Homo sapiens: one gene and its partner. The protein of the gene in region 1 purifies or fractionates together with the protein of each later gene. This does not show direct contact. Each region holds a gene or a part of one and is shown in the gene's direction. Other genes may lie near its edges. The genes, in order: ICOSLG and TMEM131L.

Region 1 (3,814 bases):
CAGCACAAACCTGAAACCTTGCCAAGCCTTCCAGCCCAGAGGGCTTTGGGGGCAGGGGACACACACAGATTTTCCTGCAGGTGCCAGGTGCAGTGGCTCACTCCTGTAATCCCAGGACTTTGGGAGGCCAAGGCGGGTGGATCACCTGAGGTCAGGAGTTCGAGACCAGGCTGGCCAACATAGTGAAGCCCGATCTCTACTAAAAATACAAAAAATTAGCTGGGCATGGTGGCGGGCACCTGTAATCCCAGCTACTTGGGAGGGTGAGGCAGGAGAATGGCGTGAACCCCAGAGTCGGGGGTTGCAGTGAGCTGAGATCACGCCATTGCACCCCAGCCTGGGTGACGGAGCAAGACTCCATCTCAAAAAAAAAGATTTTCCCACAGGCATTTACGTAGCTGCACAAACAGTAAAGCTACCCTGTGTCTGCCACATTTGTGACAGCTTTCCTACTGCAAGTGAGCAGCAATATAATGTAATTGCTGAGAAATTCTTTTCCCTTAAATGCCTTTCCCTTAAAGAACTTTTTATTGTGCATTAATTATAGACTCCCGAGAAGTAGTAAAAGTAGTGCTGAGTAACAAAAATAACACTGAGCGGCCAGGCCCCATCCAGCCGCTCCTCCCCATGGCAGCCCCTTACATAACAGGAGTGTGTCATCGAAGCCAAAGACTGACATGGACCTCACCATGAAATGTCTGCGTTTTTCAAGTTTGACTGCATTCCTACATGTGCCTTGTTAATAAATTCTGAGCCACCGTTGGTGTTTGAGGCTTGAAACCCAAAGTCTGCCCCATAGAGTAGCTTCATGGCCTGGGCATCAGCCTCCGAAAACAGATTTTGCACCTTTTGGGCCATTGCAGATACTCAGGAGAAGGAAGTCAGAGCGATGGTAGGCAGCGACGTGGAGCTCAGCTGCGCTTGCCCTGAAGGAAGCCGTTTTGATTTAAATGATGTTTACGTATATTGGCAAACCAGTGAGTCGAAAACCGTGGTGACCTACCACATCCCACAGAACAGCTCCTTGGAAAACGTGGACAGCCGCTACCGGAACCGAGCCCTGATGTCACCGGCCGGCATGCTGCGGGGCGACTTCTCCCTGCGCTTGTTCAACGTCACCCCCCAGGACGAGCAGAAGTTTCACTGCCTGGTGTTGAGCCAATCCCTGGGATTCCAGGAGGTTTTGAGCGTTGAGGTTACACTGCATGTGGCAGGTAGGACCATCGAGGCGGGGAGAGCTAGGTCCATCCCAGCCTCACATCGTGGACAAGTGTTCATGAAACCCCCTCCCTGGCTCATTCACTGTTTCTTCCAGTGAAGAAAATTCTCATCTGTGTTATCAGGCTTCTGTCTAACTTCGAGGGAAACTAAACAGCTGAAAAATCCTTAGTGCATGACCTGCGGCTGCTTGGTTTCCCGGAAGAGCTCCTACCCTTGCTGTCTTTGCCTCTTGAGTTAGTTAGCTTTTGTTTTTGTTTTTGTTTTTTGAGACGGAGTCTCGCTCTGTCACCCAGGCTGCAGTGCAGTGGCACAATCTTGGCTCACCGCAACCCCCGCCTCCTGGGTTCAAGCAATTCTCCACAGCCTCCCGAGTAGCTGGGACTACAGGCGCGTGCCACCACACCCAGCTAATTTTTGTATTTTTAGTAGAGACAGGGTTTCACCATGTTGGCCAGGCTGGTCTCAAATTCCTGGCCTCGTGATCCGCCCGCCTCAGCCTCCCAAAGTGCTGGGATTACAGGTGTGAGCCACCGCGCCTGGCCAATTAGTTTGTTTTTTGAGACAGGGTCTCACTGTTGCCCAGGCTGGAGTGCAGTAGCGTGATCACGCTGCAGCCTTGACCTCCTGAGCTCAAGCAATTCTCCTGCTTCAGCCTCCTGAGTATCTGGGACTACAGGCACATGCCACCTCGCCTGGCTAATTTTGATTATTTGTAGAAATGGGGTCTCACTATGTTGCCCAGGCTGGTCTCAAACTCCTGGACACAAGCGATCCTCCTGCCTCACCCTCCCAAAGTGCTGTGATTACAGGCGTGAGCCACCACATCCAAACTAGAGTTTTAAAAGTGAAATTTGAAGGGAACTCTATAAAGCACTAAATGAGAACAAAATTTAAGAGAAAAATAAGAGGCAACCAAGGAGCTCTGGGCAGTTCATTGGGGAGAACAGCTGTGTCCATTTCAGATGGACTGTGAGCCCCTGTGTCAGCAGTGAGAATGACCAGATCCAAATGAGGGGGTCCCGGCACAGCCGACGGCTGTGGAGTGGGGGGTCTGTGGGTGCCAGTCACTGCCCGACAGGCTCAGCGGTCCCTGGCTACTGGGACTGGCTTGGGGGATGACTCTTGGGCAGGACAGGGCGGAGCCTGCTGCTCGGACCACAGCCCTGGTCCTGGCCTGTCACCCATGTCGGGGCACAATGGGCCGCCTCCCCTCTGACCCAGCCTTGGCACCGTGTACCCTCTGTTTCTTGACCAGCAGGGTCTGGCATCTCTCACAATCTGTTTCCCTCCCCTGCAGCAAACTTCAGCGTGCCCGTCGTCAGCGCCCCCCACAGCCCCTCCCAGGATGAGCTCACCTTCACGTGTACATCCATAAACGGCTACCCCAGGCCCAACGTGTACTGGATCAATAAGACGGACAACAGCCTGCTGGACCAGGCTCTGCAGAATGACACCGTCTTCTTGAACATGCGGGGCTTGTATGACGTGGTCAGCGTGCTGAGGATCGCACGGACCCCCAGCGTGAACATTGGCTGCTGCATAGAGAACGTGCTTCTGCAGCAGAACCTGACTGTCGGCAGCCAGACAGGTAAGGTCCCGGCGCCTGCGTGCTGAGCTGTGCCCGACAGTGGGGCCAGGGCTGGCTTGGGAGAGCCTCTGAGGTAGGAGACAAAAAGTCCCTTCGACGCGGCTCAGCACCCGAAAGGTGGTTGGAAGGGAGGGGAGGTGAGAGGCACATGCCGCACAGTGAGAACCACCGCGGTCTCTGGGAACAGGAATGGGTGCCGTGCCCAGTGCATATTGCTCCATTTTCTTCACCTGGAGTCGGTTTTCTTAAACCTACTTTACAGATGAGGGCTGAACTCTGAGGCTGGGTAACACTTCAGAAGCCGCAGCACTAGGCAGCAGCAGCCCAGAACAGAAGCCCACAGCTGTGCAGCCCCCACCCAAGCTCCCTGCCTCTTGGGCGTGTGTCCCCTGAGAAGACTGAAGCCCCCAGACACGGGAATCCCACTGCGCACGGCTGCTGGCCCAGCCCCTCCCTGTGGAAGGGGTGCCCTGTGGAAGGGGTTCCTCTACGGGGACTCCTTTGTAGAGGACACAGGCCCTCCCCATTTGTGTCCCCATCTCCTGTGTCAGGATGAGAGGCAGAAGATGGAGGCAGGAGATGATCGAGGAGGGGTCCTGGGGCCCTGCTGGCTGCAGGAAAGGGGCTGCCAGCAGGACTCACCGTGTGGCCCTGGGCAAAGCAAGAATGCAGGGCTCCTTGTTTCGGGAGCATTAAGAATTCCAGACAGTGACCACAAGCATTGCACCTCCTGCCGGCCTTTCTGAGCTCAACCCCAGAAGCCTGCACAGGTCATACCCTCGAAGTCCACCCTGGCCGCCAGGATCCCCGGCAGAGCCGGACCTTCTCCTTCTTGAAATCAGGGCTCAGCCCTTCTGACTCAACATTCAGAGTGTCTGAGCTGCATGCAGCGGGATGAGGGGCTGCTCCCAAAGCAGCCTCTGATAACTGCCTTCCAGCCAGCATACTCCCCGCAGAGCAGCCCAGGTGGCAGCAGAAGCTTCTCCCAGGGCTGTCGTCTCAACC
Region 2 (3,740 bases), on another chromosome or scaffold:
GCCCTGGGAAAGATAGGTCAGAATAAAGGAGCCAGTGTTGCTTCTCATAAGAAGCACAGAAACCTGAAAGACCCAGGGAGAATTGTCTCACAACATACACACCCCTTATTTCTATGTAGCCCTGGCTTCTGGTAGATTTTCACATGCGTACATCATTCCATAAGCAATTCTTAATCAGACCTAGGGAAGGTGGAACCAATCTGCTTTGTCTGTCTCATACATTTATTAACAGCGGCTGTCCACAGGAGCCTACGCAGCAGGATGAGGCCACTTTGCAGTATTGACCTCAGCCATGCCCTAGAGTCTCAGACCCAACCAGCTGAACAAATCCCACAGACCACCAGGGTCTACCTTAGAGAGCCAGATGGCTTTCTCTTTAAGTTTCTGTGTTGATCTCTCCACTTGGCCAGAGGCATTACTCCAGGTACAGCAGGATGTGTTAGTGATTGCATAGACTGCACCTTGGCCTGCAAGGAGAACATCTGGAGCCATTCTGTCATCTGTAACAACCACGGCCAGTGAGTTGAGGCTGATCCAAATGCCTTCCAGGGACCAGGTGCTGTCTTCAGTCACTTCAGCTAGTATCAGCAAATTCCATACCAGCCATTTCTAACTGGATAGCTCCTTCCTAGTGATTACTGCCCATAGGATGTGCGTGAACCAGTTATCCTTCCAGGAAGCCTACTGTGTGCCCGTTGTGTGATGCTGGAAGTGTTGCCATGTCTGGGGCAATGATGCACCCAGGCAACAACAATGGCAGCCTGGGTGATGCAGACCTGATCAGTATCTTGATTCCAGCTGGCCGCAGTGGAGAACATACCCTTACCAAGGACCTCTATCTTGACTGGCTGTAAGGTTTAATCAGAAGCCAAGATCCATTTTCACATTTCAGAGCCCTGGAGAACAGTGTCTTCAATCTGCCCATCTGTTGCTTCCCAAGTGGCAGACCAAGCACCTAAACCATTGGCAATAGCCTGAGAGTTGTTTACACCTAGCAGGGTTTCTTCAGGGCAGAATTAGCCAGAGCTGTGAGAACCACTTTGGGTTCTGCCCACTGATCAAAATGGTTGTGGTCCTTTTCAGTTCTGCATGGTGGGCATTGAGGTGGGACAGCTGCAGCCTCCCAGTAGATGCTGTCTGATTTCAGCCTGATCCAGCCATCAGTGAGCCAGGCCCAGGCATTTAAGGGAGCCCTTGGGAATTGAGGGCCCACTGAGCCAACAACTTCACTTCAGGTGCAGAGTGGGGGATAAAGTTTCCCTAGAGGGGTACCTGCCATTTTTCCACATAAAGCTGAAATATAGGTGGGGCAAGCCCACTGCATGAGCACCAGCCTCTTTGCATGAGTTCCCCTGAGCCCCATGGGGATATTTAATCACAGAATATCTAATATCTAATATAGGGGTGACTCAGACAGCCCTAGATGGATGCCACACACAGTGGGTTGTGCTACAGGAGAAGAACCCTGAGCTTTGGGACCCCAAAGCTTTTATAATAGGCAACAAGCATGCCTGCCCTTTGCTCCAGAAAGAGACACTATATGTTCCGAGGCTTTTGCTTAGCAAACATCTATGAAAAGATAGTCCAGGAGAAAGGTTGCCAGTGCCTCTGGCAGAAATGGGAGAGATCCCTAGAGACTTGTGTCCAAGAAGTCAACTCTGCTCAAAACCTTCCAGTAGCTTCAAAGTAAATGCCTAAATTCTTCAAGGGGCCCACAGGCTCTGTCTTCTCTGCTCCCAATCCGCTCTCTATAGCCTCATCCCCTACTCTTCCACTTTCCCCTCTCCTTCCTGGCTACACTGATATCCTTGCTGTTTGAACTCCCCAGGCACACCTTGCTTCAGGGCTTTTGTGGTACTGTTTCTGCTGCCTGGAATGTGCTTCCCTGTACCCACTGGACTCACTTCCTCACGTCAATCACGTCTTTGAGGAGCTGTTTTCTCAGTGAGGCCTTTGACCATCCTATCTTAAATCATTGTATTTGGCCAGGCGTGGTGGCTCACGCCTGTAATCCCAACACTTTGGGAGGCCGAGGCAGTGGATCAGTTGAGGCCAGGAGTTTGAGAGCAGCCTGGTCAACATGGTGAAACCCTGTCTCTACTAAAAATATAAAAATTAGCTGGGCATGGTGGTGTGTGCCTATAGTCCCAGTTACGCAGGAGGCTGAGGCATGAGAATCACTTGAACCTGGGAGGTAGAGGTTGCAGTGAACCAAGATGCCACCACTGCACTCCAGCCTGGGCAACAGAGTGAGACCATCCCTCCCCCCACCCAAAAAAAAATGCTGTATTTGCCATCATGGCACGCACATTATCTGGCATGCTACACTTTGTTTGTTGTTTGTCTTTGCTCACTTGAATGTAGCTTGTTCACTGCTGTATCCTCAGTATCTTTAATGGGGCCTTGCAGAAAGTAGTTCCTCAAATATTTGTTATGTGAGTCTCATCTTGTCATCCAGGTCAAGAGACAATCGGACACTGTCTGAAGAAACGGTCAAAACAATATGCTGTATTTCAGAATTATATCCTGAAATTATATTCCGAAAGGAGTTAGTCAGCATGTGTGGGTGACATTAGGGAGTGTTTTCTGGAGGGAAGGGCAGGTGCAGGAAGGGTAGGATGAGGGCCAGGTGAGGATAGGGTGGACTCAGGCCTTGTTCTCTTCCGTAGGTCTTTACTCACCTGGAGACCTGTGGCCCACTCCGCCAGTGTGTGTGACAAGCAGCTTAAACTGCACCCTGGAGAACGGCGTGCCTTGTGTGATTCAGGAGTCGGCCCCGGTTCATAATAGGTACAGCTTCACTTCTCTGATTGGTGCCTTGCTTAGTCTAAGGGCTTGCAGTTGGAATTTGAGTTCAGTTTCTTAGGGTTTCCTTACAAAAATGAAGGCTAGGCTTCTTCCTTGGTGTACTTTAGCTGTGCGTTTCCTTCTGCCTTTTAGAGTTGCACTGGGACTAAACCAGGCATTGAGAGAAACATGAAATAAAAGAAAGAAAGCTGGTGACAGTGTCGTTATTTTTTAAAAACGTCTTTAAAAAAGACGATTTTTTCATATATTAGAGGCAGATTTGAAAAAAAAACACTCATAATTCCTAACTGCTAGCAGAGCAAAGCTGTTCATTTTTCTGTGGCATTATTCTTGAACACGTTTAACGTTGTATTTATTCGTTTGTTTATTTATTTTTTAGAGACAGAGTCTTGCTCTGTCGCCCAGGCTGGAGCGCAGTGGTGCAATTATAGCTCACTGCAGCCTTGAACTCCTGGGTTCAAGCGGTTCTCCTGCCTCAGCCTCTCAAGTAACTGGGACTACAGGTGTGTGCCACCATGCTGGTCTAATTTTTAATTTTTTTTTTTTTTTTTTTGTAGAGACAGGATCTTGCTTTGTTGCCTAGGCTGCTCTTGAACTCTTGGTCTCAAGCTATCCTCCTGCCTTGACCTCCCGAAGTGTTGGTATTATAGGCATGAGCCAATACACCTGGCCCAAATTTAAAGTTTTAAAAGATCAAATAATTTGAATATTGAAAAATAGTTACACAATGGCAGTTTCTCAAATTTGCTATTTGACATTAATATGTCATTCTATTAGGGAGTCTTAAGAAAATGTTAGATATTTAATCACAGAATCCATTTGATGGTTTTCTTGGTTCAGCTTATTACAACAGTATTTCCTATCTCATTTCTATAATAAGAATCTAGGTTGCAATAGGGATCAAAGTATAATGAAGTATAGTCTTTATAGTT

What was found.
Region 2: the proteins of ICOSLG (region 1) and TMEM131L purify together in Homo sapiens (affinity purification with mass spectrometry; one large-scale study listed by BioGRID and IntAct). This does not show direct contact.

What each region holds. Positions count from the first base shown.
Region 1 is NC_000021.9:44,234,267-44,238,080, reverse strand, and holds part of ICOSLG (ICOS ligand isoform a precursor), read left to right. Parts: intron 1-863; coding exon 864-1,214; intron 1,215-2,518; coding exon 2,519-2,809; intron 2,810-3,814. UniProt on the Homo sapiens protein: Ligand for the T-cell-specific cell surface receptor ICOS. Acts as a costimulatory signal for T-cell proliferation and cytokine secretion. Also induces B-cell proliferation and differentiation into plasma cells.
Region 2 is NC_000004.12:153,630,049-153,633,788, forward strand, and holds part of TMEM131L (transmembrane protein 131-like isoform 1 precursor), read left to right. Parts: intron 1-2,669; coding exon 2,670-2,790; intron 2,791-3,740.